Linked DNA regions of Homo sapiens: region 1 is linked to region 2. The links come from fine-mapping of genetic effects on gene expression. A gene starts in region 2. The other region holds a variant in brackets. All regions are shown on one strand. Distances are from middle to middle. Region 1 overlaps NCK2 (NCK adaptor protein 2). Region 2 holds the start of NCK2 (NCK adaptor protein 2).

What was found.
Region 1: its variant is fine-mapped to the expression of NCK2 in whole blood (TOPMed, PIP 0.92).

What each region holds. Positions count from the first base shown.
Region 1 is chr2:105,766,196-105,782,472 of GRCh38, reverse strand. The region is part of intron 1 of NCK2 (NCK adaptor protein 2); the gene reads right to left. Among named protein-coding and RNA genes, the nearest start is that of NCK2, 29 kb to the right of the region's middle. RefSeq lists enhancers at 4,068-4,568, 5,679-5,788, 5,849-5,948, 12,235-12,737, 12,738-13,240. The variant C/T (reference allele first, on the strand shown) is at 6,242.
Region 2 is chr2:105,736,814-105,753,090 of GRCh38, reverse strand. It overlaps NCK2 (NCK adaptor protein 2), which reads right to left and starts at 8,179. Exons shown (of 5, transcript NM_003581.5): 1 at 7,953-8,179. RefSeq lists enhancers at 6,869-6,918, 7,019-7,088 and silencers at 7,459-7,848, 7,959-8,018, 8,209-8,528.

The sequences.
Region 1 (16,277 bases), 29 kb before region 2:
TACTTAAGAAAAGAGCGTTCATTATATAGACTGTTTCTTCTCAAGTCCTCAAATGGCCATCAACCCAACTCTGACACCTGCTGTGGAGAGAGTGGAACTAGTTTTAGGGAGATTTTTGGTGGCAGAGAGAGAAGGCAGATCACTAATCCCCATGGGCTGGTGGAAGCCATCAGCAGGATGTGCCTGATAATCCATCCATCTACACCAGAAGGAAGGGCCACCCTGAGTCCCTGGGCCCGGCCACCCCGCCTGCCTACAGCCAGACCAGGAGGGTTGTCCCCTTACTCCTATAAAGAGAGGGGAAAGAGATGATCGGTGATAGGCTCCCACTCTCGCGGAAGCCCAAAAGCAACTTCCCGCAGTCATAGTAAGAACAGAGTAAGGAAGGAATGGACCTCAAACCTGGGAAACCAGGTCTTTGTCTAGGAGCTCCTCCCTCAGCTTGAGGGACCTGATGGGCCGCAGGTTTTCAGGTAATTTGGACTCACTTGGACATTCTCAACTTCATAGTCAAGAAACTGACAGCTGTATGTACCTATTTCAGTTAAAAGCATTTACGGCAAGAAATAAAGAGGGAAGAATACATATGCACGTATACCAGTTCATTCAGCAAATGCCTAATGAGCATCACTACGTGGCCAGAGTCCTTATCACAGACTCATTCCAACTGGAGAAACAGACATGTCTACAAATTTTCGTACTGCGGAGAGGCGACAGCTCTGTCACAGACAACATAAATTGCAGGATTATCACTTGCCAAGCCACAGGCTCTGTACTTTTCATGCATTGCTCTTTATTATAAACCTAACAACTACCTTACAAGACTGCTATTTTCTCCATTTTTCAGATAATAAAACTGATGCACAAAGACCTCTGCCAGCCCAAAGTCACACTATGGCAATGGCAGGTCATGATTCATGCCAGCAAACCAGATCTTAACTGCTAGGCTGTACTGCCTTCCAGGAATGAGTGCAGAAATATTACGAAACAGACGTACATGGACTAGAAGGCCAAGGAGGGTCACTAGTTCTGGCTGGGGGAATCCTGAAGGCTTCAAAAGGGAGATTGCATTTAGTCAAGTCTTGCAGTGTGGGAAGGGATGAGTGGTGGAGGTGGAAGCGGAGATGGGAGAAGGCTGCCCCTGTGTCAGCAACAGGACCTGCAAAGGCACAGAGGTGTAAAAAGTGCACGGCTCCCTTGGGAATACCTAGAGTAATCATGTTCATAAAATTCACAAGGGCTGAATGGTAGAAGGTGGAGCAAAGATCAGATTTTAAAGGTGCTTTGACAACACAAAGGCACCTCTAGGAAATGGGAAGCTAATAGTTTATAAGAAGAGAAGTAAAACAATTAGATCTGTATCTTTGAAAGCCAACCCCGGAATAGGTGGGTGGGAGGGAGAAAAATCTGAAAGCAAGAAGACAGGAAGACCACGACCAGGTGAGAGACAAAATCTAGATTCGGGCAATGAGAAAAGAGAGGGTCACTTAGTCAAGGCTGGGTGACTGTGGTAGTCCATTTGGCTGGCTGTAACAAAATACCACAGAATGGTGGCTTATAAACAAAGGAAGTTATTTCCCACAGTTGTGGAAGCTGGAAGTCCAAGATCAAAGTACCAGGAAATTCAGTGTCTGGTAAGGGCCTCCTTCCTGGTTCCTACACGGCGGCTTCTTGCTGTGTCCTCACATGCTGAAGGGGTGAGGGGGCCCTCTGGGGTGTCTTCCGTAAGGAAATTAATCCCATTTGCAAGCGCTCCCCTCTTACGACCTAATCACCTCCCAAAGGCCCCACCTCCAAATACCATCACCTTGGGGGGTAGGATCTCAACATATGAGGGACACATTCAGACCACATCAGTGACCAGGGGCTCTGACTGGTGACTGATGTTTCAGCATAATTACAGACAGCACCCCTCCCACTCTCAATAGTGCCCAGGTATAGATGACAAAAATGTGGTTATCACTTTATTCAACATCTATATGGATGTGACACAGGACATGAGCGAGAAGCAGGATTTGAGGATGAACATTAGAATTTTAACCCAGATACCAAACGAAAATGAGAGAGCCAGAAAGGGAGAGAGTATGTGTGTGTGTCCTTTAGATGAATGTGTGTGTGTGTGTGTGTGTGTGTGTGTGTGTGTGTGTATATATCTCTCTCCCATATTATGGAAATAAATGTGACAGACATCTAAATATTTATGACTATCAGGTCCCAACTTAATCTAGATGCTGAGAAGCAATGGTTTTATTAATAGAAATTTCACTTTAAAAACCTTCCAAATATTCTACAATAAATATTTATTATTCTTGATTAATCTTGCAACCAGAAATTTTAAAACAAAGGAAATATGCTTCATTTCTAGTACGTCCAAAATATGCTCAGTTAAAATAATGCCATTGAATAAGGTAAAGGCAAAACTGGAAAAACGGAAATTAGAGTAGTTTATGAAAAGAGTAGAATTGAATTAAATAACCCAAGGAAGCACACACAGGAGGTCTTGAGAATTCGCTGAGCTGTGAAGTATGTGGATATGTACACGCTATCCTGAATGAGAGGGTGAAGGCGGTCTCGTAGGCTATGGCATTCAGGCTGTTTTCCCCATATCAGTTTCTCCTTCCTATAACTAAGGGAATTAATCCATCATACAGAACGTGAGGACTCTACAAAGCTACATTTCTGCTAGGGAATTACTATGTATATGTATGTGAGTGTGCGTTTTAAATCATGGTCTGACCAAGAGGCTCAATTCAAAAGCTGATTAGTGGGAAAAAAAAAAATCAAAGCTCTTTCCTCCTCTCCTCCACCTGCATACGTCTCCCGTGGGCGGAGAGCAAGCTCTCCTTTCCATCTGCCCACAAGGCCAAGTGTAAAGCACAAAGAATGGGCAGTCCTTTTCAGGTCTGCAGCCAGGAGGCTGCACCCAGCTCCAGGAAGCCAAGTTCAGCTGGACGCAGCCACCCACCACTTGGTAGGTGGCAGAGATGCAGCCATATTCAGACAGACTGAAGCTCTATATATAACAGTCACATGGCAATCAACTTAAAGTATCCCCTTTAGTTAATTAAAAAAGATTAAAAGCCTCAAGTCTAGGTGTTTTCTGTTTTCTTCAGGAGTGATTTTAATAAACACATTTTATGACGGATTCTTTTTTTTTTTTTTTTTTGAGACGGAGTCTCGCCCTGTTGCCCAGGCTGGAGTGCAGTGGCACAATCTCGGCTCACTGCAACCTCTGTCTCCCAGTTTCTAGCGATTCTCATGCCTCAGCCTCCAGAGTAGCTAGGACTACAGGCATGTGCCACCATGCCCAGTTAATTTTTGTATTTTTAGTAGAGACAGGGTTTCACCATGTTGGCCAGGCTGGCCAAAAACTCATGACCTCAAGTGATCCACCTGCCTCAGCCTCCCAAAGTGCTGGGACTACAGGTGTGAGCCACTGTGCCCAGCCTTATGATGGATTATTAATGAAAATTATTCTCAATTATTTGTTTTAACATTTAAATATTGAATTTCCAAGTTTAAAAAAGATATTCTTAAAGCATATTCTTAAAGCTCTTGAAAAAAAAAATAACCATTATCTCAATTAGCCTGGTATAGTGGTGTGTGCCTATAGTCCTAGCTACTTGGGAAGCTGAGGCAGGAGGATCACTGGAACCCAGAAGTTTGAGGCTGCAGCGAGCTATGATCACACCACTGCACTCCAGCCTGGGCAAGAGAGTGAGATCCTGTCTCTACAAAAATAATAAGAAATGAAAGAAGAAAAAAATAACCATTATCTCAATTGATACACATAACCAGTGCAGTAACAAGGGCATGATTTCCCAGCCTAAGGAGGAATGTGCAGAAACTCCAGTTAATAGGGGCACCTTTGGTTCACGCAGCCACCAGCATCCTGCATTACTCTGTGAGAGTTAACTCTGCCGGCAAATCCCCATGGAGAGGCTGCCCAGAACCAAGGGCTTCTTCCCTCTGCCATCACCGCCCTTCCCTGGTCCCCATGCACACAGTGTTAAGGGCAGGTGTGTTCTTACACACCACCACTTCCCACGCCACAGAGGATGGTCAGCAGATGTGGTCAGAGTGGGCAGCTGACCAAACTGGGCCAAAGCAGCTCTTTCCTCAAGGCTAGAACACAGAACAGATCCTGAAGGCTCCAGCCTCTGCTGGAGACACATGCCTCCAGGATGTTGGCAAAGGTCACTACCACATGTGCTGGGATAGGGACGGCCAGTCTGTAATGTGCAGAGGGATAGAGCTGAGAGGCAGGGGGCTTTCTAGGTCCCCAGTCCCCCTCTAAGCCCGGGACCCAGTCCCAGAGGCCTGCCAACATCTCCTTCACAACACATCTTGTCCTTAGGACAAATTTCTCTCACTTCACAGAGCTCAATGGGGTTTCTTTTACTGCCACTTTGGCAGCTCCTCCAAGCACAGCTGAAGAAGGTGAGGAGAAAAGGCAGGTGCAAATAAGGGAGCTAGGAGAGACTCACAAAGTCCAGGTCTCAAACAAAAGAACTTTCCATGACAAGAAGACAGGCAAAGGCTGAACGGCTAGGCGAAACCAAGGTGCTGCTGCTGGAATCCTGTGAGCTGTCACCCCAGTACCGATCCTCTCTTCAATACGAGCACAGAACTGCAAAGGGAGCTCGGCATTTTCAAGATGCACGTGTTTGTTTCCTGCTTGACAGGAGCAAACAGTTCCTACCAGGGCTTCAAGTGGTCTGCTTCTCCACCCACAACATATGCACCAGAGAACCACAGTGTCCACAGTGGCTCTACACACAGGACCTTGATAGGAATTGTGCGCATTGGTGTCCACAGACTGTTACCCGGAGAACAGCTGCAACTGAAGTCATTTATAGTCATTTCCACTGGCCAAAGCAGGTCATGTTAAACTTTTCATTTGTTTTGTTTTTCCATTTTGGTGTGTGGGTATAATCCGCATGATTATCAATATCCCATTTCCATTGATCCATACAGAAAATGCACAGCACCTACCACTCTCCACCCACGCCGTGCCAGGTGGTGAGCACTGGGTCATTTCATTCCACCCACACTCTCAGGAGTCTGTGTGCAAGATGTGGCCTCCTGGTGTGAGGACTGCCCCAGCCCTCCTCTGTACCTGAAAGCTACCCTTGCCAGCTGGATTCTGGTTAAGTTCTGTCAAAGACACAACCAGGTGCAACATTAAAAGGCAGGAGGAAGGGCAAAGCGTTGCCCCCCCGCAACACCCCGGCTCGTGGCTATGGGGACAGCAGGTTCCTAAAGCAGCAGTGACGAGAGTAGAAGGTTCCAGCTGCCATCGGTGGAGTGCCCAGTGACAGCCGCAGGGCCGTGGGCTCAGAATTCCTGCTCGGCGGCAGCAGCAGTGAGGAGAGCACCTGCTCTCAGGCTCTGGGAACTCTCAAGGCCTCATTTTGCCCTTCAGACCTAGGGACAGCGGCAGCTTTCTTAGTCTCTGATCTCTGGGGAAGATGCCTTTGGCTGTCCAGCCCTTCACACTCTCGTGAAGCCACTCCCCATACTAGATTCTGCCTATATGAAACCCCTAGGAGGTTTCCATTTACTGAGAGAGGCTCCAAGGGGTCAGGAAGAACCCCAAGGCCAGAGGAGAGCAGAGATTATCTGAAAAGTGAGGTCAGCAGTACTGACTACCAGAAAGAAACCAGAGGGCTATGGTACCCTCGAATAGTCACGTGTGGTCCGACTGCTAAAGATCCCTGCAGCCAGGAGCTGGGAGCCCGGAGCCTGGACTAAGTCCAGCCCTGCTGGGATGGCTGAGCTAAAACGAGGGAGGCTGGCTGGAGGAGGAAGGTGGCTTGCTAGCTGGCATCATCTGCTCACCAGCTAACCCTAAAAGAAAATCCACAAGTTCCTTTTTCTGATCATGCTCAAAATGTCATAGAGGTCCCCTGCCAGGCCAGGGGACAACCCAAGGCTGGCAGCATGCAGGAGCCCTCCACGGGTGGGTAGGCTAGCAGATGGCATGGCACAGGAAGCAGCCCCCAACCACAGCTGGGTGACTGTACACCCTGGAGGGCGGCCACCCTGTCCCAGTCAAATGGGCCCACCTGGTATATGCATGGTGACAGGGGTTCTGAACTCCCTCCCCCAAACGTGCTTTGGCTGCTTCCAGAAGATGTTGAAATGTTAAGATATTTGGAGGACTTATAGAAATAAAGGGCAAAAGGTAAGAAACTGAGTGTTACAGAAAACCCAGGATGTACGGTTTCTGTCGCTGGGA[C/T]GGAAGTTGGGGTGTCCCCACCCAGGACACTGTAGCAACGTACAGGAAGTGGGAGCGAATGGCAGGGCAGAGCACTGAGATTCCTAGGGGAGGTCCCCAGCCAGGCATGGCCTGCTCCGCACCCACACCCCCAGAGGTGGCCTGCAGTAAGGGACATGCTCCAGGCCACACCAAATTGGGCCAAACCAAAATACAAGGGGGACATTTTTTCAAATTATTTCCCAGGTGGAAGTCATTAACTCCCTAAGCAACTGACGGTCAACAATTATCCCTCGCACTGTTTTTTTTGTTGGTGGTGGTGCTTTGTTTTGGTTTTGGTAACCACAAAATCAAAAAGGAACTTTTTGATGACCAGCTATTCCAAGTTTCTCATTTACAGATGAGAAAATAATGAGCCTGATTAGTGCACAAAAACACAAATACACATTAAAAGAATCCAAGTGAATCAAGGTAGCTCCCAAGCTCACCACACCGGGAGGTGTGGTGCTCCCAGTGATGCCAGCCAGGCTCCCAGGGTAGGAAGGAAAAACAAACAAACAAAAAGGAAGCTAATTTTCAAACAGTTGTAATTAGCTGATTATTCTTCACTTGAAAGGTTGCATGAAACAAACAGCTCCTTTGTCTACAGCAGAAGCTGTAGACAATTTAAGTTAAGGCATAAATTCATAAATAATGTTTAAAACCCAAAAGGAGATAAGAAAGAACACATCAATGTGCTACAATGACAACTGAAAAAAATAAGCAAGTCAGAGGAAAAATGATTAAGTTCAAACAAGATCAATCTGAAGTTAAATTTTAAAAACTAAATTTCGGTTAAAAATAATTATCTATCTACCTGGAATCTGAATAATCTAATAGGGAGCCCAGAGATCAGGGAAGGGAATGAGGTGAGTTAACTACTGATGTCCAGTGACAGGCACACCAGGATTCAGGATTCTTAAATTTTGAAATTTCCCATCATGAAAAATTAAAAATCCACAAAGAAACAGGCAAATTCTCATTGATTAGGCACCCACATGCCACACACAGTGCAAATTACTTACAACATGACTAACACGTAAAAACCACCCCTCAACAAATACCACTTATTACTATTTTTTAAAAACTAAAGTTTAGCTAACATCAGATGACAAGGTATTCAGACACCATGGTGTGACTCAATTTCTACATGAATCCATCTGGTAATTATTATTATTATTATATTATTATTATCATTGTAGAGACAGGGCCTTGCTATACAGCCCAGGCTGGCCTCAGGCTCCTGGCCTCAACTGATCCTCCTGCACTGGGATTACAGGCATAAGCCACCGGTGCCTGGACTGGTAATGATTTTAGAAAGCGTTTTTTCAGCTGTACATCTACACGGCTCATTAAGCCACATTTCTTTCAACACATAACTCAAAAAGAAAAGTGGCTTTATAGATGATACCCAGTACTCAGTGTCCAATGAATGCTTCACAAAAGTTACAAAATAAACGTGAGTTAAAAATTGAGTGTACTTGTGGAACACAGATTTCGTCATCCAGGCCCCAGACAACTTGACACCTCCTCTCCCTACCGCACCACAGAGTGGACAGGCCCCAACAGCCAGGTCTAGAGTTCGTTGTGTGTGTGCCTTCCCCAGCCACATGACCAGACCTGCAGTGGACACCTGCCCAAATTGAGACGATCAAATCTGACTCTGGGACCCAAATACATTGTTCCAGGGGCTCAACACACCAGGGCCCAAGGGGTCCATTCACAGGGAGGGCCACCAGATTCTGACCAATACATCAATTTTATTTTTGCCAACACAGAAAATACTGAGCATCTGTCAGACCAGTCAGACCATCATCACACAGCCAAGTTAAGGCTTGCTGTAAGGGCTCAGCTACTGTGAGGAGGACTCAGGTACCTAAAACATCTGTTACTAAGATAGCTGGAGGCTGGGCACAGTGGCTCACACCTGTAATCCCAGCACTTTAGAGGACTGAGGCGGGGGGATAACTTGAGGTCAGGAGTTCGAGACCAGCCTGGCCAACATGGTGAAAACCTGTCTCTACTAAAAATACAAAAATTAGCTGGGTGTGGTGGCACGTGCCTGTAGTCTCAGCTACTCTGGAAGCTGAGGCATGAGAATTGCTTGAACCTGGGAGACAGAGGTTGCAGTGAGCCAAGATTGTGCCACTGCACTCCAGCCTGGGCAACAGGGCGAGACTCCGTCTCAAAAAAAAAAAAAAAGATAGCTGGAAAAATCCACATCTTCCACCTGAGGACTTCCAGATGCACACTTCATTTTGGTACCTCTGACATCTTTCTTATAAACAGAGGGTTTTGTCTTGTTTAAGGCAAATAAAAACAGTTAAAGAAAAGACTGCTGGACTACCCAAAACACTGCATAAGAACAAAAGACAACAGTCCACACCACTACCGATTCTCCAGGCAGCCTGCCAGACACAAGCTCAGGGGAGCAAGCACTTGGGTGCTCCTTTTCCACCGCAGGATCACCAGGGCCTGAAATAGCACCTGGCTCAGAGTAGGTGCTCAAATAGTTGTTGAGTGGGTGACTGCTGCTTCAAGTCTTCCAAAGAAAAAATATCCATAAACCAGGATGCTCTAGCATATAAGAAATGAACCATAGTGTCAAAGGGATACTATGGTATTGGGTGCTGACAGAGGACTGGGGAAGGGGAAGGAAAGACATGAAGTATGAAGCACAGATGCCAGACACCATGGGGTCTTTCTATGACACTGAAGTTACCTGCCCAGCAGGTTCCAGGTGCAGTGGTGATGGCCCTGAGCTGAGCATGTGGGAAACAAGGAGGCATTCCAGGGATGAAAAACCAGCATGAGCAAAGGTGCATGGACTGATGGAGGCCGGCACGTGTACCAGACGGCGAGAAGACAGGTCTGCCTCAAGCGGGTGGCTGGAAAGGAGAGGGACAAGGGGGACTAAGCCAGTGTTAGAGGATTCGAGAAACAACTGCAATTGCTGATGTTGGTTTCTTAAAGAAAAATATCCTTGGCACTCACTGGCAAAAAGGTGAGTGACGGCCAGATGGTAGGTGGCTCATGCCTGTAATTCCAACACTTTGGGAGGCTGAGGCAGGTGGATGGATTGAGGCCAGGAGTTACAGACCAGCCTGGATAACACAGTGAGGGCCTGTCTCTACAGAAAAATTAAAAAAAAAAAATTTGCTGAGTGGGGTGCTACACACCTGTAGTCCCAGCTACTAAGGAGGCAGAGGCAGGAGGATTGCTTGAATCCAGGAGTTCAAGGCATCAGTGAGCCATGATCACACCACTGCACTCCAGCCTGGGCAACAAAGGGAGACCATCTCAAAAAAAAAAAAAAAATGTGGACACGTGGGATGATGTGGGAGGTCGCCAGGAACACACTGTGAAGGAAGGACCAGGAGACCTAGATGCAGGGCAAGGACAGGGAGGACTCTGGTTCCCAGATGAAAGGAAGCTGCACTCACTGTGAAAATGGGAGGGGAGAAGAAGTCAATTCCAGAAAGAAGAGTTTCGGGGAAAAACTCTAGTAGGAGGTCACTAATGCCTCTGAGCCTCCCTGAAGTCAGAAGCACAGTGTTTTTGTCATTGACTTATTCCCATGTCCTCTGCAATAATGACTGCATGCTGAGCCAACAGTGACAGGCAAGTACTGGCTCAATGTTTAACCCAGCATCAGTAACATGCGGCTGACCCCAGTGCTGCGGAGGGAGGAGGACCAGAGATCCGGCCACTTCTGGAGAAGCACATCTGTGAGGCTAGATCAGCTATCTAAAAGGCAGGACATCAGGTGGGCTAAAGTGAAACCCAGGACTATGCCCACATTCCCCGGGAACAAAGAAAGGAACATTTTCCTTTTTCTAGGTTCTTATCCTGACCAAACACAGGCAAATGGGAAGGATGCTTAGTGCTGTTTATTCCATGGGGCAGAAGGCTCTCCTTTGGGAATAAACAAATAATGAGCTGAGCCTTGAGAAAGTTAAAAATCAACAGTCTAAATAAATCTATGGTTCTCAAACTCAGGGCCAAAGAGATCAAGAGTTCCCAGGAGGCTCCGAGAGGCTGTTGGGAAGACACCGGTGGAAACTGCTAACACAGCATTCTCAGCCTCTGCAAACGCTACCCCCTCCGCCATCCTTCAGACACTGCCCTCGGCTGAGCCAGGATCGGCAGTTCCACAGGCAGGACGCAGCTTACAAGCTGAGTTCTCAAAGACTCAGAGCTGAAGAGTTCCTGGACACTTTGACGACAATATCCAATTTTGAAGGGTGTCTGGGAGGGAGTGGAAAATGAGGCCCTGGAACAGCCCTGGGAGGGAGGAAGTCAGTCTGAGGAAGCTTCTGGGAACAGCTGCGGAGAAAAATATAGATCTGAGTGATGGGCAGGCCTCACAAAGGAATGGCAGCTTTCACACCAGAGGGTTTTTACTTCAGACAGAAGAAAACAATGGTTAGAAAAAGCTGCCAGTAGCGGTCAACCCAGGTACATGCTTTTTCTAGAAAGCTTTATGAACTCAAAGCAAATCTCAGTAGCCTCTATTTGAGAAACATCAGCTTTAAAAAAGCTGCCTTCTATTGATAAGAAAAGAACATTACTTTCTACCTAAGTGACATGATTAGAAACAATGGGAAACTTCTTGAAATATTTGTCTAAATTAGGTCTTTCTGTTTTTGAGAGGGAGTTCCACTCTTGTCGCCCAGGCTGGAGTACAGTGGCCCAATCTCGGCTTACTGCAACATTCACCTCTCGGGTCAAGTGATTCTCCTGACTCAGCCTCCCAAGTAGCTGGGATTACAGGCGCCCTCACCACACCCAGCTAATTTTTATATTTTTAATAGAAACGGGGATTCACTATGTTGGTCAGGCTGGTCTTGAACTCCTGACCTCAGGTGATCCACCTGCCTCAGCCTCCCAAAGTGCTGGGATTACACACGTGAGCCACCCCGCCAGCCCTCATGTTTTTTTACTAGAAAGTCAGAATGGAAAATATAAAAGGGGATAGAAATAGTGATATTGGGCGGGGCGCGGTGGCTCACGCCTGTAATCCCAGCACTTTGGGAGGCCAAGGCAGGCGGATCACGAGGTCAGGAGATCGAGAGCATCCTGGCTAACAGAGTGAAACCCCGTCTCTACTAAAAATACAAAAAAGTAGCTGGGCATGGTGGCGGGCGCCTGTAGTCCCAGCTACTCGGGAGGCTGAGGCAGGAGAATGGCGTGAACCCGGGAGGCAGAGCTTGCAGTGAGCTGAGATCGCACCACTGCACTCCAGCCTGGGCGACAGAGCGAGACTCCGTCTCAAAACAAAAACAAAAGCAAAAACAAACAAACAAACAAAAAGAAATCATGATATTAACATCAGAATTGCCAAACACTGAAGATTGAAATGATAAGCAAACTGAAATGCCAAACTGTTTAACCCAAAATGACTTCCTGGATCTGAAATACTTTAAAGGGGTAGAAATACATTTTCAGAAGTATTATTTTTCTTGACCTGTTAAAGATCTTTAAGTTTAAAATAATGAAAAATAATTCAGATTACTAAATATCGATATCCATATCCTAGGCAATATAGCACTCTGTGATTCACACAAGAATCAAATCCGAATCACTGACCTGATCATTTTACAGATCAGTGGTCTGTTTCTAGAGCATATCTACACACTCTAAAAATGACAGATATTCTATAGCCTTCTACTTCTAAGAAAATGATTTTAAATATGATCAGTTATGTAAACACACATTCGCATACACACACACAACCTTACAGTAAGTTTCAGGCCTTCTTAGTTGTAAGAAAAGCACTGTACTTTTTAATCAGGACACATAAATCTACCTCTCAAAAGATCAAAGCCAGATGCAAACATCATCCTTTAAAAAGATCTCAGCATTAGATAGAGCCACTAAGTTTACCTCTAACTGGAGTCACACTGTAACAGAAATTTCAATCATGCTCTTAAAGTTCAAAGAATTCTGTAGAAAAGAATTCTGTCCAGAATATTAACATTTTTTTGAAGTCTGATTCTTAGAAATTCCTTTAGCAACCACACCCCATGTCCACAGCACCATCCTTTTTCTTGTTGCAATATACCTTTTTCTTTTTTTTTTTTTTTTTTACTTATTAGTGCTTTATGTTACATGAAATTAAGTGCAAAAATACTTAAATAATGCTGTGTGCCAGGCACCACTCTCAATGGTTTGACTCACTGTACTCTGCACAATCACCCATTTTCCAGTGAAGGAAATGGAGGCACCAAGGGTAAAGTAGCCAGCACAAGTCAGACCTCATGGCGGGGCCAAGGCATTCTGGCTCCAAAATCCCGAATCAAAAAGCAGAAGGTCAAAAAATTAAAAACAAAGAAACATCACACACGGAAGGAGGAGAGGCCAAAGATTACTCCGAGGGATTAAAATCTGAGTTTTTCTCCGGTTTACCTTCTACAACTCCTTTTACTGACCACGCCTGACACACTGACACATGCATTCCCTGCCACAGTGGCTCCTGTGGCCGCCTGGCTGTACTGCACAGTGCAACTCCTCAGGGCGGAAGCTGCGTGGACCCCTGGCCCTTCTTGGCCAATGACTCTAATTACCCCATGGTTCCCTCCAGAGGGCAGTGGGCAGTGCAGTAGGTCACCCACACGTCCCATTTCTTAGAAAACCTGCAGCCATGGATGCCTAACTTCTACTGTGGAGTTATTCTTCTGTACGTTATTATAAGTAGAGTCACAATTTTTGTGCTACATTTAAACATTTTGTATCTCTAAGCTTCCTTAGAAATGTTACTATATTTTTCCTACATTTGCTTCCTGAGAAGCAAGAACGGGGGAGTTACCAGCACAGTGAGAGTCATGATTCGTCAGACCCAGGGTAGAAAAGAATGTAAAATAGGCACGCATCAGCTGTTTTACTGAGAGGAGGGCTTTAAATAGGGCGCAGCCAGCTGGGGATGGGGAGGGGAGGGGTGGGGCGGGGCAGCAGGCTGACAGGGCTGCCCAGGTGGATAATAAAAAAGATCTCTGGTCTTGGTCCCTGGTTTCTGGCATAGAGCTCCTAAAGCCCTTGGTATTTACTGAGCAACAAGAGTGCCCTTAGTGATTCATAGAGAGCCCCAGTGCACCACACCTGAGCTTATGCTAATGAGGTGACCAGTGGGGTTGGGGGGTGCCCCTAGATAGCCTGGAGGGGAGCTGGTCATTGCCAGAAAGACAAAACGTGTGATTAGAGAGTGGGAACTTTCTGCACCCCCTACACCCCAACCTCTGGGAGGGGTGGGGGGCCAGGAGACTGGGCTGCAAAAACTCTTGAAAAATGGGATGTGGGGAGCCTCCACGTCATGAACTCATTGGGATGGTGCACTAGGAGGTGTCTCCCCCAGGGGGCATGGGGACTCCCACCCCTCGTCCCATGTGTCACTTCCTTTGGGCTGTTCCTAAGTTGCATCCTTTAAAACAGGGGTGTCCAATCTTTTGGCTTCCCTGGGCCACACACACTGTAAGAATCATCTTGGGCCATACATAAAATACACTAACATTAACTGCAGCTGATGAGAAAAAGAAAATTTCAAAAAAAACTCATCATGTTTTAAGAAAGTTTAAGTATTTGTGTTGGGCCGTATTCAAAGCCATCCTGGACCGCGGGTTGGACAACCTAGCTTTATAGGAACCACTAACAATAAGCAAAGTGCCTTTCTGAGTTCTGTGAGTTGTCCTGGCAAATTATGGAACCTGAAGTGAGGTCATGGGAACCCCAATTTACAGCCAGTTGATCAGAAGTACAGGTGGCTTAGGACATGCAACTGGTGACGGAAATGGGGATGGTCTTGTGGGACTTAGCCCTCAAAACTTGTGAGGCCGGCACGAACCCTGAAAAGCTAGTGTCAGAACTGAACCAAATTAGGGGACACCTAGGTGGTGTCAGAGAATCAGAGACCTGTTTGATAACACAGCCACCGGCCACACGCGGCCACTGAGCACTCAAGGGGTGGTGAGTCCAGCTATGTCTTGCTGTGAGGGCAAACACACACTGGACTCTACAGACAGGCAAAGAAAGCAAATGAATGGCATTAGCAATTATTTGAGTATATGTTGAAATATTTTGGTTATGTTGGACTACAGAAGACTTAAAATTTGTAGCCTTTTTCATGTGGTTACTGGGAGAGGTGAAGTTACACATCTAGCACACACTGGCAGCTTATGTTCTATTTCTGCTGGACAGTGCTGCTTGAGATGTCTTCATTTCTGAAAACACAAGTACTGATGTCCATTTTTTTGTCTCAAATTTTTCACATGTAGAAAGACAGCAACTACTTAAGGATGAGAGCCGGGGATGTGAGTAATAGAGAGGGAAGGAATTAGTATTTATTAAGTGCATATTAAGTGCTGGGAACCACCCAGTATGTCCCACAATTTCATGCTAGCAATCCCCTGAGACAATGGGTATCCTCCTCCTCCTTTCCCAGGTGCGGGCACGGAAACCTCAAACCTCGCGCCAATAAAGGGACAAAGCAGGGACTCCAATGCAGCTCTCCTGATTTCTGTTCCTTGCTGCACACTAGGGGCTGCGGTTCTTCTTCTGGAAAAGGCCTGATATTTCAGGCTTTGTGGGCCACATAGTCACAATTCCTCAATTCTGCTGTTGCAACATGGGGCAGCCACAGATGCTGTGGAAATGAATGAGCCCAGCTGGGTTCTAATAAAACTGTATTCACACCCAAACAGGTGAACTGGATTTGGTCCATGGGCCACTTTGCCAACCTCTACTGTAACCACAAAGAGTAACAGATATTCCTAAATCAATTACTGTATCATCAGTGCACCAGAATGTAACACTTATAAAGAACACCTTTCACAAAATACTAACTAGGTTATTGTGGAAACAAGGGAATAGGGAGGGTCCAATTTTGCAGGTGAACTTCCTGTTAGGCTTCTAAGCTCATATCAGACATCCAAGTAGGCCACGTCACGAGCAGTATTACATTAACAGCAAATTGCATTTGGTTCAATGACATGACATGTATGTGTGACATGAATAACATTACAAGCATATACCTGGGAATATGGAATGGTATCTATGAGATAAACACAGACGGGGGTCCAGGCTTCCAGGTCGGAGCCTCCCTGGCTCCAGAGAGATAAGCAGGCACCAGGAACCCAGCACTGGTGTGTGTGGGCCTGAACCTGGCTGACCATACGAGTAGCTGACCATAAGAGTAGGTGTGACACACCTGGGCAGGTGTCCTCAGGTGAGAAGAGTTCCTCCCAAGCGTGTCTCTTCACATCTTCTCTTCACTCCTGAGTTTCACCAACACTGCACAGGCAGCAGGAAGACGGAGCCAGAAGCCTCCAGCCAGTTACTAAACTAATTTGATGGCTTAAATATTAATTTGTAAGTCAAACTAACACTACTCACTACAGATGGAAATAGTTTGGAGGGAACGAAAATCCTGCATGCCCACAAGATGGAGGGATAGCCGAGTAAAGGAAAGGTCTGGGGACAGAGCCAGGGCTGGTTCGATGTTCACCTGCAGACCCCGCCCCCGCCAGGATTCTCCCTCACAGACTACCCTGAAAGGTGACAAGTCAACAGATACAAAGCAGTGGAGAAAAAGAAAACCTAGGCCAGGCACAGTGGCTCAAGTCTGTAATCCCTACATTTTGGGAGGCTGAGGTGGGAGGATCCCTTAAGGCCAGGGGTTTCAGACCAGCCTAGGCAACACAGTGAGACTCCATCTCTACAACAAAAATTAAAAACTTCACTGGGGCTGGTGTATGCCTGTAGTCTCAGCTACTCAGGTGACTGAGGTGGGAGGATTGCTTGAGCTCAGGAGGTCGAGGCCACAGTGAGCCATGATGGCGGCACTGCACTCCAGCCTGGGCAACAGAGCAAGGCCCCATTCCTAAATAGAAGAAGAAAAAGAAAACCTAAAAGAGGTGAGAGAAGGAGAAAGAAATACATCAGGTTCTCCCCACCTTCCAGGCCCTCCCAGAGCCATGCAGAACACAGACTTTCCCAGGTGGGAAGTCCCCACATTCCCGGGCTCTCC
Region 2 (16,277 bases):
ATGGTGGCTAGCTTGGTCAGAGTCTAGCTGTGGAACCTAAGACATGGCAGCCTCAGTGCCTCCCTTTCCTTAGCGATGAAGATACAAACAGAAAGTACCACACGTTCTGTTGGTGAGGACTCAATGAGTTATTACATGGAAAGTGCTTAGAACAGTGATTACAATGTGTGTGTGTGTGTCTGTGTCCGTGTGGGAGAGAAGCTAATGTTCACTTTAAAAATACATGATTTTAGCTTGTACTTAACATGTTATCAGAAATATGAATACTACAGATGACTGGATAAAGAAAATAGACTATTCAGCCATAAAAAAACAATGAAATCATATCTTTTGCAGCAACACAGATGGAACTGGAGGCCATTATCCAGACGGAACCAGAGACTTGAAGGGTGATGGGGTAGGAAGGGGTGGATGATGAGAGATTACTCAATGGGTACAATGTATGTTATTTGAGTGATGGATACAATAAAGGTCCTGAATTCACCCTTAGGCAATTTATGTAACAAAATAACACCTGTACCCCATCACTGTATACAATGTTGTTTTTTACCTTTCCTATGGTGCTGAACACATTTTTTAAAAGGAAATGTGTTGAATACTGATATACAAAAATGTTATTTTACACTGGTAACTTCTAGAATTCAAACCACATTTTAAGATATTTGTAAAATGAACAAGGTATTTTGATGATAGATATTAGTTTTAACTGAATCTGATTTTAGTGCTCTAAAACATCATGTGCTGAGTGTCTGAAGGATGACATTACTCCTCATATTTAAAAAGGTTACACCTTTCCCAGTAAAGCATAATAATAATGACCATTATAATTATTCTACATTGTTTCCACTTTGTCTCTTTAGCTATCTCAACTTTGGAAAACAGACAGCAAATGAGGCTTAAATCATGAAAAGTGTATAGACTCACACTCCGCAACAAGGCTGCCACTAGTCGCGTGTGGCCAAGGCCAATCAAAATGCAGCGAGAGGCAGCCAAGAGGTGCAGTAAACGTATATACTATATGCTGAATTTCAAAGCCCTCACGCAAATAAAAGAATATGAGTTATCTTATTAATTACATTTTATGTTGATTACACATAGAGTTTATATATATATTGGGCAAAATATAGGATGAAAATTAATAATACTTGTTTGGTTTTACATTTTTAATGTGGCTACCAGAACATTATGATTACATCTGGGGCTTGCATTTGTGGTTCACATTGTATTTCAAGGGGTCAGCACTGCTCTTGACAATCCATCAGTTCAAATGGCATTTGCAGGGAGACAGTCCATATTAAAACACACATACGCACCATTTTCTGCAGTTAGTCTCTTCTCCTCCCATGACAGAGAGCTGGGCCCATGCTCAGTTCCATGCAAAGCTGTAGTGGGGTAGCCCTGCCATTACTGCACAGGAGAACCCTGAACCAGTCCCAGTGGAGAGAGTCTTTAAAAACAAACTGATTATAAACTTAGTTTTGTTATCACAATTAGCAAACCATCAGTGGGTGGCCACAGATGACTTGTAGCTCAGCATGTGTGTATATGGGGAAGGGGATATTTAGATGCTGGGAGAAACAGAGAGGCAGCCCAGTCGTGCAAGCCCATGACTGCCATGCTGGGGACTTGAGTCACTGACCCAAGTACGATGGAGAGCCACCGTGTGCAGGTCATGGCCAGACCTGACTGTCAGGGTGCAGTCACCCTGGGATGGATTGGCAGGAATGGTTAAAAAGTGGTTTTGATGTCCAGGGGAAACAGAAAAAGGACAGCAGGGCTGAGATGTTAGATCTTTTGGAGGTAGAATCAATAGGGGTTGATAACTAGTTGGGAGCTGAGGGAGAATTCAAGGATAACCGAGTGAGTCGGTGATGGGGAATATAACTGAGAAGGCGGGCAGGTTGCAGGAGAAGCTGCAAATGGTTTGGGATGGTGGAAATGACCACTAAGAACTTGGATAATTCATATGAATGTGAATGAATGAGCAAACAAAGCATCAATGAACATACAGATCTGGAGCTAGAGGGAGGTCAGTCATGCAGGCATTGCCCCTGCCTTATGTCTGAACAAGGCAAAATGGCCTAGGTCAGAAACATTCCAGCCACGCTCAGGGTGCACCTCACCACCGTCATGCACATTCTGCTAAGGGATGTTTGCTCATGTGGCAAAGACTGCACGATCACAGAGATGGCAGGCTCAGAGGAGACGGCCTCTCCACCCTGGCTGCCATTGGCCCCACCTCTTGCTTTGCTCTCTTCATCCAGGGTTCAGAAAAAACTTTCCTTTGCATATCACTGATATTTTATCATGGTCTCAATTAAAGACAAACCAACCCCCAAATAAGTGTCTACCTACCTAAGTTGAAGAGAAGTTTCCATAAATGAAATCAAGTCAAGATTTTTCTCTCTCTTCAATCACTCTACTTAAAACCTTTCCAGCCTTTGGAAGGCCAGCACCAAGGCTTGTTCCCTGTTATGGGGTGCTACAACCAATATATAAAGAGCTGACGTTCCCTCCTTACTTGTGACTACTCTAACCATCCCTGGTAGGTGTCCCCAAATAAACAGAGATCCCAGATCTGGATGATGGGAGCACCAGGTCTTCCTAAAAGCATCAGCCCTGTTGTGGAACCTAGACAGACACACTGGGAGTGGCTGAATTGTCCACCCTAAATTCATATGGTAAAGCCCTAACCCCTAAGTGACTATATTTGGAGACAGGACGCTTCAGGAGGCAATTAAGGTTAAAAAAGGTCATAAATAAGGTTAAAAAAGGTCACCATAAGGGTGGGGCCCTCATCCAACAGGACAGATGTTCTTATAAGAGGAAGAAACACCAGACCTCTCTCTCAGTGCACTCACAGAAGGAAGGCTACGTGAGTGAGGACACAAGAAGACGAGCCAGGAAGAGACACTCACCAGAAACCAGCCCTGCCGGCCCCGGGGTCATGGACTTCCAGCCTCCAGAACTGTGAGAAAATAAATGTCTGCAGCTTTAGCCACCCATTCTGTTGTTGTTGTTTTGTGTGTGTGTGTGTGTGTGTGTGTGTGTGTTTGTTTGCTTTTGAGACAGGGTCTCACGCTGTCACCCAGGAGTGCAGTGGTGTGATCTTGGCTCACTGCAACCTCCGCCTCCTGGGTTCAAGCAATTCGCGTGACTCAGCCTCCCGAGTAGCTGGGATTACAGCCGTGAGCCACTGCGCCCGGCCTCTGTGTGTTATTCTCTTAAGGCAGCTGGAGCTGACTAATACACGCACTAAACAGGAATAAGCTTTCTGAACTTGAGGAGGCTTTCCAGGGTAACCCTGGCCCATAACCAGGATGTGGGGACAAGAGAGACTGACATTGCTCCTGCCGGCCTCCCCTCACACCGCTCAACCTCAGTCAACTCACATCCAGAATCTGCTCCACCAATATCTACACACAGCTGCGACACGGCAAAGGCAGATACCCAAGGACACTGTGTTCTGTAAACTGCCTCACAAAAAAACAACTCTACCCAGCAACACGTTGGTGTTCCTCATGTATGGCCTGCAGAAGGACTTAACCTAAATTCAAGCTCTGTCATCCCCAGTCTCCTACCTAGAAATGAGGGCCAGAACCAAGTGCACCATGTTATTCGACTATTAAATATGATGGTGTATGTGAAGAGGACTTTGCAAACAATGAATGAGCGTGCATGCATTAGTACATGTCATTCTCTCATCATGGCATTTTCGGTCTTCACTAACAATTTGGCAACGTAAGCACCCCAGCTTCCAAAATTGTCTCAAAAGAAGCAACTGCAATACTTAAAATTCTGAGTGCACTTGAAGCTTCTTCTCTTAAAAACATTACCAATACAACAGTAGAAAGAAGGGGTGACACAAATAACTAACTTACCAGGCCAGGATCACAAACGGTCTGCCCAGCGTTTTGAATTCAGGTTGATAGGAACAGACTAACCTACAAAAGTAAACCATTCAGCCAGCCCACCAGGTAATACAGTTGAGTATGGGGTTGGCTTTGTTTTTTTGTTGTTGTTGTTGCTGTTGTTGTTTTTAAATGTAGCTTCAGGACTACAAATGACTCACATGACAGAAAATTTGCCAAATAGAGAGGCCAACAGACCAAATTCTCCCATTGTCTGGACATCCTGAGGTCAAAGCCTTCCACAGTAGACAGAAGTTCTGAGATTTACAAGAATGCTGGAGGTCTCTTACCACTTGAATCTCAGTGGGAGGCTAGAGCCCCAATATTAACAGGCTGGGCACTCATTATTCACATATTCAATAAGTATTTGTTGCACACTCATTGTGTATAAGTGGCAAGACCAGTCTGCCCCCAAGCGGTTCAGAATCTAGTAAAGAAAAGATGAAGGCAAAAAAACCATAGGGCAGGGTATGGTGGCTCTGGCCTGTAATCCCAGTACTTTTGGAGGTCAAGGCAGGAGGCTCACTTGAGCCCAGGAGTTTGAGACCAGCCTTGGCAAAGCAGCAAGACCCTGTCTCTACAAAATAAAAATAAAAATAAAAATAAAAAAATTCACTGAGCATGGTGGTGCACACCCGTAGTCCCAGCTACTCGGAGGCTGAGGTGGGAAGATTGCCTGAGGTGGGAAGATTGCCTGAACCCAGAAGCTCGAGGATGCAGTGAGCTGTGATCATGCTACTGTACTCCAGCCTGGGTGACAGGGTGAAACCCTGCCTTAAAAAAAGAAAAAAAACAACTGCAGGAAAGAATGTCACAGATGACAAATCAGGGACACAAAGAAAGTGCTGTGGAAGTTTAAAGATGATGCCATCCCCTCTAGTTTGGAGTTGATAAGATGTGGGGAAGAAAAGAAGTAAGAGACGACCCTTGGGATGAGTAAGAACTCAGGACACGGAGGAGACTGAGCCAAGGAGTTGAGAGGGAACACAGAGGCTGGTCAGGGACAGTGACACCGTATGACATCACTGTGACACTGCTACCTCAATCAAAATAACTTTCATTTCCACAGTTTCAAGGACTAAGATTCTTGAGGTAGGAATGTATGTGCCAGTACACATGTGGATGTGTGTCACTGGGCAGAGGTAATACTTGCTAACGTTCATTTACCTTTAGAAATAAACATACTTTGGGAAATGTTCAAAGGAAAATGCAGGAAAAGAAAAGAGTCTAATTTTTTAATTGTGCTACTAAATGGCCTAAAGAAATGCAAAACTGTTTTTGCTTTAGCTGCACACTTTTGATAGCCCGTTAAAAGGCCGTCACGACCTTCTTCTGAGTTGCCTTAACTCAGGCATGGAACAAGATACACGAAATCACATTTTAGCTTAGGCCCTTTGAAAACGTGCCGTGAAGTATTTCCATCACTCATTTTAGGAAACAGAAACCATTTGGAAGTGCCACTCGCAAACCCTCTGGATGGGAAAACTAATTTCCTAAGCATCTGAAGTGAGCTGTAGGGAGTTTCCAGTTCATTTGTGAAAAAAGTTAGCTTACTTGTTTTTCCAAACATCACTCATCATCCTCCCCTGTAGTTCCAGCAAGCAATTCTGAGCTCTTCAGTCTTTAAGCCTCATTTTTAATGTCAGAGAATGATTTCCGCAAGCCCTGTCTCCCCCAGTGCACACGGCAAGCCAGTTTGAGCAGTTAGAAAAATGGGTGTCCCATAGAGCCTCGCAGCCTGGTCTATCCAGGGCAAACTAAGCTAGTGCAACTGATCAAGTAAAGGACTCCAGTGCATTCTGCGCCATTCCGGGAGTCTTAGGGTATTTTAAAAGGTTATCCAGTCTGTGCACATGCAAGGAAGATTTCCGGTGTATTTAATATGGATGGTAGTGCATTTCTCAAATATAGTACTGTGTACATAAGATCTGCTGTTTGTTGGAAAAGCTAAATAACCGAAAATGTAAATGACAAAGCCTGGGAATATGGCAGGGTCAAACAGAGCAAGGATGAAGAAGATTTAAGTATGCAGCGTGTCCTAAGCAAAACACAAAGCATGAAAACTGAGCACAGCCACCTGCAAGGCACCTTCAGCAAGCCCGACGGTTAACAGGGTCAGTTTCTCCACAAGTGGACAGAGGGGGTTATGCAGCAGCCAACTCTTCCTGATGGCAATTTGTGACCCAATTTCATCCAGTGTTTCATGACCAACCCCCCTGAATGTTTATGAAGCAGGAAAGAAGCTCAGAATCCAGGCGAGGCCTCCGGGACAGGAAGTGGGCCAGGCACCTCCACAGCTTCCTATGCCTAAAGTTCTCCATTTCAGCCTCAAGTAGCCGCCAGAAGACCACTAAGATTCCGCCACCTTCTCCAATCAAAACTACATCTAACCAACCTCCAGGGCAGAATATACTGAGGTAGGATTTTCCCTCGTGTTCACTTCTTCACAAGCAGGTTAACACTTGCTTCTCAGGAAACCCCTGTTCCAAACGTCAAAAAACCTCCATGTCTAGCCCAATCTCCAGGTGAAGTCAATTTCTTCTCCACGTGTCCGATGACTGCCATTCTCTTTACGTAAAACTCGCAAGGCTTGAATCCTGTTACTAATTCACCTGCTTATCTATGAAGCTTGCAAAGTGAATTGAGGGAGTGTTCACACGCACAGTTCCGTTTTGGTAAGTTAAAGCGGCCCAGGTTAATTTCATTTTCAGTCACTTTTGAGACTTGATAACTACATCTAAAACAGAGGCATGAAAAACACCCTGAATCACTTTCATTCCTACACAAAATCCCTTCCGAGAAGCGGGGACTGCGCCTGGGCCAGGAAGGGACTCCCCTACCTGTAGGTCCCAGCAAGCCACGCCCACCGGCCTCTCAGGGTTGTTTCTTTCTGGGTCGAGGGACGGAGCTGGCCCTTGCGATATTTTAGGCCCCCTCCTGCCCACACTGGGGCCTGCTCATCCCATTATGCAGATGCAAACTTGGCAGAAGCAGCCTTAAACCTGTTGGCAAAATAAACAAAGCCAAATAAAGAGGAATCTGCCAACCTGAATTGTGTGAAGTGGCCAAGGCCGACTCCACGCACGCTCGGCTTTGTCCCTGAAGCTGTTACAATACTAGTTTAAGTCAGGTGCCTGGGGTCCACCAGCCAATGACCCCTAGCATCCACCGCAGACCTTCACAGAGATCCCCATTGTCTACAAATTAAAGCGTTTTGCAAATTAAACCCCTCCACACAATGCCAAGCTAACTGTGCTCATAAGGCAGTTACCCTCCATGCCTTAAAACTCACATATCAAATTTTTCCAAAAGCACTCGGTGATTAAATCGCCCTGAAAAAAACCGAGAGAGCCGAGCGATTGTGAGAAACTTTGGTTCATTCAGGTGGCTGTTAGAGTCCTGTAAATCTGGGGCAGGGCGCAGAGCCTGAAGCCGGGCACAAAAGCTCCCTTCGCCGAAGCGAGGACCTCCTTTATGCAATGTGACAGCAGCTTTGTGCGCGAACATAAATAGTTGTAATAAACACGGTTAAGTTCTCCCGGCCGATCGCGGCCTCCCCCGTCCCTGCGCCGGGGCCCTGCGATCCGCGGCTATTCTTCCCCGGCACACGCGCCCTGGCGACCCTGGCCACCGCACGGTCCCACGCTAGCCCCGAGCTCCGTGCCGGCCGCCCGCCTGCAGGCCAGGCGCAGCCTGCGCACCCGGGGGTCTCCAGTCCCCGGGCCCCGCAGCCGGGCCCCCTGCCCTGATCCTCGCCCGCGCCCTTGGCTGGCGTCCCCGCCCCTGGGCCGGCCCCCGATGGTGGGGGTTAGGGATGGGAAGGCGGGCAGGAAGGTGCAGAGCCGGGAGGTGCCCGGCAGTCCGCGGTCGGGGGCGCCCAGGCCGCGGCAGGGCCGAGAGCACCGGAGGGGCGCGGAGGGGACCCGCTCTCCTGGCCCCTTCCCGGGCGCACCCCGGCCCGCGAGCCCCGCCGCGCTCCCAACTCCGCCCAACGGCCCCAAGTTTGTGGCCCCCGCCCCACGCCCGCCTAGCCGCGCTTACCTCGCCGTGGGCCGCCCGCGGAGCCGGAGGGCAGCGGCGCGGGTCCCGGGGCGGTGGCCGCGCTGCGCCCGCCCAGGCGCCGCTCTTTGTCTGCGCCGCTCCCTCCTCCCGCCGCCGGGCGGACGCTGCCGGCCCGGGCGGACCCTGCCGGCCCGGGCGCCGCGAGCCTCCCGGCCGCCAAGCCCTCCCCTCCGCCCGCCGCCCGCTCGGCCGCGCGGCTCCGGCCTGACGATCCCCGCGGCAGCGGCGGCGGCGGCGGCGGCGGCGGCGGCGACCCTCCCCCGGCGCGCAGCGCCCGCCTCCTCCGCGCTCTTCCTCCTCCTCCCGCGCTCCTCCCCGGCCGCGCCGTGACGCCGCCCAGGGGCCGGCCCAGGCCCGGGCGCGCGGGGCGGGGACCCGAGACCCACCTGGGGCGCCCCCCGTCGTCGCCAGGCTCCGCGCCCGGGTCCCGGTACGGGCGCCGGGATAGCGCGGGGCTGCGGGACGCTCCGCTCTGGAGGCGCAGCACGGGCCGGGCGCCGGGGGCAGGAAAGGGTCCCCACGCCCGAAATTGCGTGCGGGCGGTGGGGGGCAGGGTAGGTGGGTGGGGAGGAGAGTGAAAACACAGACGGCAACTTCCAGCCTGGGATGACTGCCGGGTGGGCTTTGCGTCCTCTTTTTTGTTTGTTCGTTGTTCTTATCACGAAGCTCTAGTTGCTGGGCAGCCGCCCCCCTCCCGGAAGCATTCCCACGGCACTCAGCTAAGCAGGCCTGTTGTCCATCAGAAAAGTGACTTAAATAAAAATGTCACTTCCTCCCTGTAATTGCTTGTGGGCATTTTTATTTATTTGCTTTGCATCTATTTACTTTCCCAACCAGACACATTTTTAGTCCATCATCCCTGTCCGAGGCACTTCCTAAAAGAAGAAGAAACTCGACCTCTGTTGCCTCCCAGGCATCCAGGCCAGCCCCAGCCTGTGGAATCCTGGTTGCACACCCGTGGGGGCAGAACCCGAAGAGGAGCTGCCCGAATGTGCCCCTAGAAGGAGTGTCGCTAATGATGGGACCGTTCAGCTCACCCAGCCTCGAGTTGTGGCTAGCCTATAAACAAACTTGGAAGATGAAAACCCAAGAGCAAGGGGAAAGACACAAGTTTCCCTTTCACAGACACATGCATCCGGATGTCTTTTCTCCTCCCCATATGGTTTCCCAAAGGAAATCCTAATATTCAAATGATTCTGATTTCCTGGCAGGATAGCCTGCATCCATGTTAATGAGATTCTTTCTTAGGCTCCTGGTCTCTGCTTACTATTAAGGCAATAATAATTTACCCAAGGTTACAAGGCTGTATTATTTGATTCACTCATCTCCTGCTTCCTTCCAGAAGGGAAGTACCCAAGGATAGGTAACTAGAGTCAGCGTAGCTTTGAAGTCAGACAGGTGAGTGTTTGACTGTTGACTTCCTGAACTGTGTAACGTTGCACAGGTGGTCCTCAGCCTTTCTAAAATCTGTCATATGGGGAGATAATATTTACTTACCTCCTATGTGAAGTACCCTGGCAGTAGGTAGCCCTCAATAGCTCAGTAAGTGGAAGGAAGCACAGTACACTGAGCAGGAATCAGGTACAAGCTCAGGGAATCAGAACAGCCTCATTTTTCCTTGTTTTGACCTTGTGAAAGAAGCTACTTCAGTTCATCCTTTTGTGCAAGTTTTGTGTTACTAATATCTAGCTTTACAATAAGAAAAGAAGAATTCTAGTCATCAGTCTGCCCAATTTTAGATTAATTTACTCAAAATAAGTATAGCAATATTGACCCAGTTTGTAGCTTGTTTGCTTTGTAAACTTTCACTGAATCGTGGTTCTTGCATGCCTCTTCTTTCTCTGATTCTTTAGAAGTCACCGATGTCATTCTCTATCTAAATCCAGTGGCCCTTTATCAATCTTTATCCTGTGGAGTTTTCTGAAATATGTGGCATTTCTGCTATTTCCTGAAACACCATCATCTTTTCATTCATCAAACACAGCCAGTTCTGATTCTCTTACCTTTCTGACCTGCCCATCTGCCTCCTCTAGAGAGGTTGTTGTCTTCCCACCCTGTAAAAGTGATATCCCCAAGGCAGATGGTGGCCCTTTGTTTTTATTCTGATACGCACCTTTTTTTTTTAAAGAGAGAGTTGATTGTTTTTTGTACACTCCCTGTCTAAACCTTCATTGATTAACCCCCAGACCTGTAGCCTTAGAGAGCTCCCCTGCTAATCTGCAGAGCTCCCCAGCTAATCTGCACCCCCTAAACATGGCGCAGCATCTCTTCTAGGTCACCATGTTCAAAATGAAACTCATCTGCTCCCCAGACCAGCTCCTCCTCCCATGGTTTCAGGCCTGGCCAAGAGTCTACCAGGCACCTCAGCTCCTGGGAGAAATCTCATTGTTATCTTGGCTTTTCCTTCCCTCTCTCCGAGTTCTCCCCAAGAAAAGCTGGGAGAGCGCTGAATGACACCAAGACCCCTTGCAGACTACCCCCATGGTTCTGAGTCCTGGTGATTCTTAAACATCTTTTCCACTGCACCTTTCTTTCCATTTCCATCACTGGCATCCTAACTTATACATCATTCTAGCAATAGTTATAATGTACCTTGATTGAATTCTTGACATATATCATCTCTAATCCACACACAATAGTATTATACCCATTTTACAGATGAAATCACTTGAACAGTGGATCAAAGAACTGGGGTCAGAGCATGTACCTGACTCCAAAACTCTTGTTCAATTCCCCACAACTACTGCCTTCCAACTGGTCTCCCATTACTTCCTTCTTAAATCCCTCAGACTCACACTGGACATCAATGTCATCCTAACCTTCCTGTAAATTGTTTCCATTTGTCCCTGGTTGTGCTCAAGAACTTCTCATGGCTCCCCATTGCCCACCACAGTCTCCTCAAAAGTTATCTGATGACTGAAGACTGAGCATTTTCCCCCAGAGAGGCTGGGGTATTTAGCCCTTAGAGGCCTGTGTTCGTTTCCTGGGGCTGCCTTAACAAATGACCCCAAACTAGGTGACAAAACAGAGGTTATTTTCTCAAAGTTCTGGAGTTCAGAAGTCTGATATCAAGACACCAGCCTCTCTCCAAAGTCTGTAGAGAACAATCCTTCCCTGCCTCTTCCAGCTTCTGGTGGCTGCAGACATTCCTTGGCTTGTGGCAGTGTCACTCCCACCTCTGCCTCTCTGTCTTCACACAACCTGGTTCCCTGTGTCCTTTCCCTTCTCTCTTTTTGTAAAGACAAGTATCATTGAATTTAGGGCTCACTCTAATCCAGCATGATGTCATCTCGACATCCTTATCTTACAACATCTGCAAAGACCTTTTTTCCAAATAAGGTCGCGTTCTCGGCTTCCAGGTGAACATATCTTTTGGGGCCAACATCCAACCCACTGCAAGGCTTAACATGGGGGAGACATTTCTTTGAAGCTTATGTTTTATCTAAAAATATATAGGTTTTTCTGCATTCTACTCCATTAATGTGTCCACATCTGTTTTACTGTCTTCAATCACAAAGTATTGAAAGCATAAAAAACATGGAGTGGAAGGAGGTGCAGTAAACTTTTGCCTAAAATCACATCAGCATTACATCTTATGATCTCTCTTCCAAAGGCCTCTCCAACTTAGCCCTGCCATACAATCTCCTTTTTACCTCTGTCCAGTATAAGCTGTTTGCTTCAGTCACTCAGCTCTGCCCACAGTGCCACATTGAGTCACACTAGTTTCAGCCTTCTGTGGTGTGAAGGCAGCTAGGAATTCCCTGTCCCCGTCCTTCTCTTTCAGAGCTCCATTCAAGGCCTTCTCTAACCCCTCCTTAGACTCACGGAAAACACAAAGCAAGGTTGAGGGTGTTGTCCAAGTCATACGTCAGAGGCTCAAAGCCTACCTTGGAGCCTGTGCCTTGGGGTCATTTCACCTCTCTGAGCCTCAGATATTAATAGTGCTCTTGCAAAGCGTTGTGAGAATTAAAGGAGATAATATAAACATGTCTCAACTGTGTGTTCAGCACATGGTAAACACTCATGTCTCCTTTCTCATGACCTTCTCTTGTAACCCTCAATTCAATTAAGCATATCTGGTGTAGTTCTATTTGTAAGGCATTATAAGATCCACTTCAGGATTCATTCATTTGGTGCAGACACCAAAGAACACCTGGATGTGCAAAGAGCAGATATAAGATTGCATTATTCAGAGAGGTTATAACGCAAACTGGAGTGGAGTGAAAGGATGGGAAAATAGTTTAGGAGAAATGGAGAGGAAAGACCCAAAAGGAAGGATGAAACCAGCATACAAATAACTATAATATAAAACTAAATATGAACAGTACCAAAGAAAATATGTCTAGAGAATCAGGAGAAGCTTTAGGCTTTATGAAAGGTGGTGGCATTGGCAATGACCTTGAGAGATTACATGGTGGGAAGCTGCCTTTAATTTGGCTGCCCCCCTCTCTAGCCCCTTCCTGGTTTTAGAGAAGCCTGTCTGAACCCTGGAGGGAGGCAGAGTAGGCACCTTGGTCCCTCCATTCCCAGAAGCCCTGTGAGAGTGAACAGCCTGGGATTGGCCAATGGAACCCTCCCACTCAAGACTGTGAAACTGGAGAGGGTGAAAAGGACAAGAGAGGGTGAGATTCAATTTGCCATGGCTGAAATAGTCCCAGCACATCCCTCCCACAGGAATTAGCCAGCTCCATTCTCACCCCTTCTGCTCTCCAGTTCCCCTGTGAGCTACTTGATATTCTTCTAGTAAATTCTCCTATTCTGCTTAAGGTACCCAGAGGCACTTCCTCTTTTTGGAACCCAAACCCCTGAATAATGCAAATGGTAGGATTTTGAAAGGTGGAGATAGACAGGGAGAAAATTCCCAGCGGCAGGAGTTCAGAACTCTGAGGCAGACAGGGGGACGTGGGAGGACCCTGTAGGGACAGAGAATGGCCCACTTGCCTAAATGGAGCAGAGGCTGCACAGAGCGGATCGCGAGGCCAAGAAGGAAAGCAGTTAAGTGTGGACATCATCTGGGCTCAGCCCAGGAACACTCATTTGGTGCATGCACGGAAGGACAGCTGGAGACAGGAAGAGCAGACAAAAGTTCGCATTTCCAAGAGAGTTCATAACCCCAACTGGGGTGGAATGAGTAGATGGGAAAGTGTTTTAGGAGAAATGGAAGGGGAGGCTCAAAATGAATTGGCAGCTGCTTGGATGTGGGGGACCAAAGAGAAAGAGAATGGGGCACAAATATAACCTGAGGCTTTGGATGTGGGAAACTGCAAAGACAACGGTGCCGAGATCAGAAACAGAAAAGTGGGGAGGACTGGCTTGTGAGGGATGAACGGTTTTGTTTTTGTACATTTGTTAAATGTAATGAATAGTTATTGCCAACTTACTACATGGAGAGGGCACTGCAGGAGGTACACAAATGAGCAAGCCACAGTTCCTGCCCTCACGTGCCTCTGTGCTAGAAAAGTTGCTATTACTACTATAAATACCCTGCTGGAGTAATGAGCCTATTGCTCTTTAATTGTATCATTCATCTCAGCGTTGATATGAACGCCCTGAGGGCAGGAGCCAAGCCTGGTTTTCCTGTACAGCCCCGACCATTCTCCGGCCTACCCAGTACAGAACAGACACTTTGCAAATCTTTCACGATGGATGGAAATTCCACACTTACGAGTGTGTCAAAGAGGACAGAGAGCATTAGTGAAGAGACTTAAAAAGAGGCCATTAGGAACTCGCTATGAGAATCTCAAAACAGATACCGGTGGACGTATAGATTTTTGCATTTCATTTCACCTACATGAAAACATGGGGAAGAGACGAGTCTTAAGACGGCACGGTGATTTCATACCCAAACTACAAAGTACCTTTTCACTACCTCTTCAGACCCAAGAAGGGGCAGCTTAGAAACACATGAAACCCATCTCTCAGTGACTGGCAGGATTAACTTTTTACAAACCACCACTACAAAGAGTTAAAGTTCATAAACACCCCCCAAAAAAGTGGGCTGTCCTCTATGGATGATCAATACGATTCTCCTGCCTCTCTCTAAGAATTGTGATCTGGACTTCAGGAAGTAACTATGCTTTATCTAATTGTGTAAATAAAGGAAAAACAGATGAAGTAACACTATAAAGTTGAATGTAAGTTAGGGTATCAAAAAAAAAAGGAACGGAAGTGCACTTAAACACCGACCTGTTTTTCAGTATGTGTTTTGTCAAACACTTCCTGTGGTGATCAACGTTACACATCATAACTTTAAAATTTAACAGGTGCTTGAGCCGAAAAATAAAAATGATCACAATTTTACATTGTTTTTGATTGTTAGCAGCAGGGTAGAGTTAGTTTCAGATAGGAACAATTTTAAGAGAGCTCTGTACCTTTAGAAAAGCTAAAATTTTACGCAAATTGCCATTTTGAAATCCACCTTAGGTGAACATCATGGATGAGACATTTATGTTAGCTACAATAACCCTCAATTAATCAGAATGCCTCAGGAAGGAGTTGTTTTGCTAAATTAAATTTTCGTGTTGGTTAAAGATCAACCAGAAATTCCCTTCAGCTGGAACATAAATTGAAATTAAAAATATATGTACGTATATTGTAGGCAGATATCTCACCTTGGAAAGCACAGTACAGTAAATGAAATGAGTCCCTTTTTGATGTGGGGTGCCTCATAATGTCTCTGAGTCATCATTCTGAACATGCATCCTCATTTTATAGTGTTAAGTGTGTAGAAGATTGAGTGGAAGAATCTGTACTAAGTCAGAGCCATGCTCAAATTACTTTTTAAAAAGTTAATAAAATTTGCTTGTTTTCCTGCATTTGCTACCTTTTTCTGAAAGTAAAGTGCTGAGCAGGAGATTGCCATTGAGTGAGGGCTCCAGTTACTTACAGCCTAGTCATTCAGTGCTTACTTGCATGTTTTAAAAGGGAAGACTTCTAGCAGGAGCGGTGGCTCATGCCTGTAATCTCAACACTTTGGGAGGCCGAGGTGGGTGGATCACTTGAGGTCAGGGGTTCAAGACCAGCCTGGCCAACATGGTGAAACCCCATCTTTACTAAAAATACAAAACTTAGCCAGGCATGGTGGCACGTGCCTGTCATCCCAGCCACTCGGGAGGCTGAGGCAGGAGAATCACTTGAATCCAGGAGGTGGCGGAGGTTGCAGTGAGCCGAGGTCCTGCCACTGCATTCCATCCTGGGCGACAAAGTGAGACTTCATCTCAAAAATAAAATTAAAAAAAAAATGAAAGGGAAGACTTCTAAAATATAAAGCAATTCTCAACTAGAGTACTGGTAAGTGGGATGTTGCTTTTTTTAAAATCACAGTCTTCACTAAAGAACAAATAGGTTAATAGGAAGATATGTTTTAGAGACACTGTAACATAATCTCTTTTTCACTCTGCAGTGCACTGGATGGCTTTCTCCTGTGAATTCAATGCAAATCCAGCGGAGAGTAGGCTGCATTGAGGAATAATCCCGTGTAGCTTCCTGTCTGTGGTCTGCATTGCCTTCCCTCCCATCCATGATGCTATAAGCTCTCTTTCCTTGGAGTTCCTCTCATTCTCCGAAACTCTGCCGGGGCGTATAGCCAAAAATGCCTTGTTTTCTAGTAATTTATGTCCATATGATATTTTAAGATCATAAACTGATTCAGGACAAAATTATTATTATTATTATTTTTTTCTTGGAGATGGAGTTTCACTCTGTTGCCCAGGTTGGAGTGCAATGGCATGATCTCGGCTCACTGCAAACTCCACCTCCTGGGTTCAAGTGATTCTCCTGCCTCAGCCTCCTGAGTAGCTGGGACTACAGGCACATGCCACCATGCCCGGCTAATTTTTGTATTTTTGGTAGAGATGGGGTTTCACCATGTTGGCCAGGGTGGTCTCAAACTCCTGACCTCAAGTGATCTGCCCGCCTCGGCCTCCCAAAGTGCTAGGATTATATTATAGGCATGAACCACCAAAATTATTTCTTTGACTTCCCCAGAGTATCTCACTGACACCTCATACAAAGTTGGCAGTTAATGATGATTCTTGAAGGAAAGGCGTGGGATAAAAATATACTATTTACAAATAACATTTTTAAAATGCAAATGGGTTTAGCTACATATCATTGTAAGTTTTTATTATTAACACAATAGTTGTTAATAGCTATCATCTGTTGCATTCTTACCACTGGCCAAGCACACTATCTAATCCTGACAACCCCAGTGAGGGAGGCATGAAGGTCCCCATTTTATAGATAAGGAAACTGAGGTTGAAAAGCTTTAAAAAACCTGTCTAAGGTCACAAAGCAAACAAATGG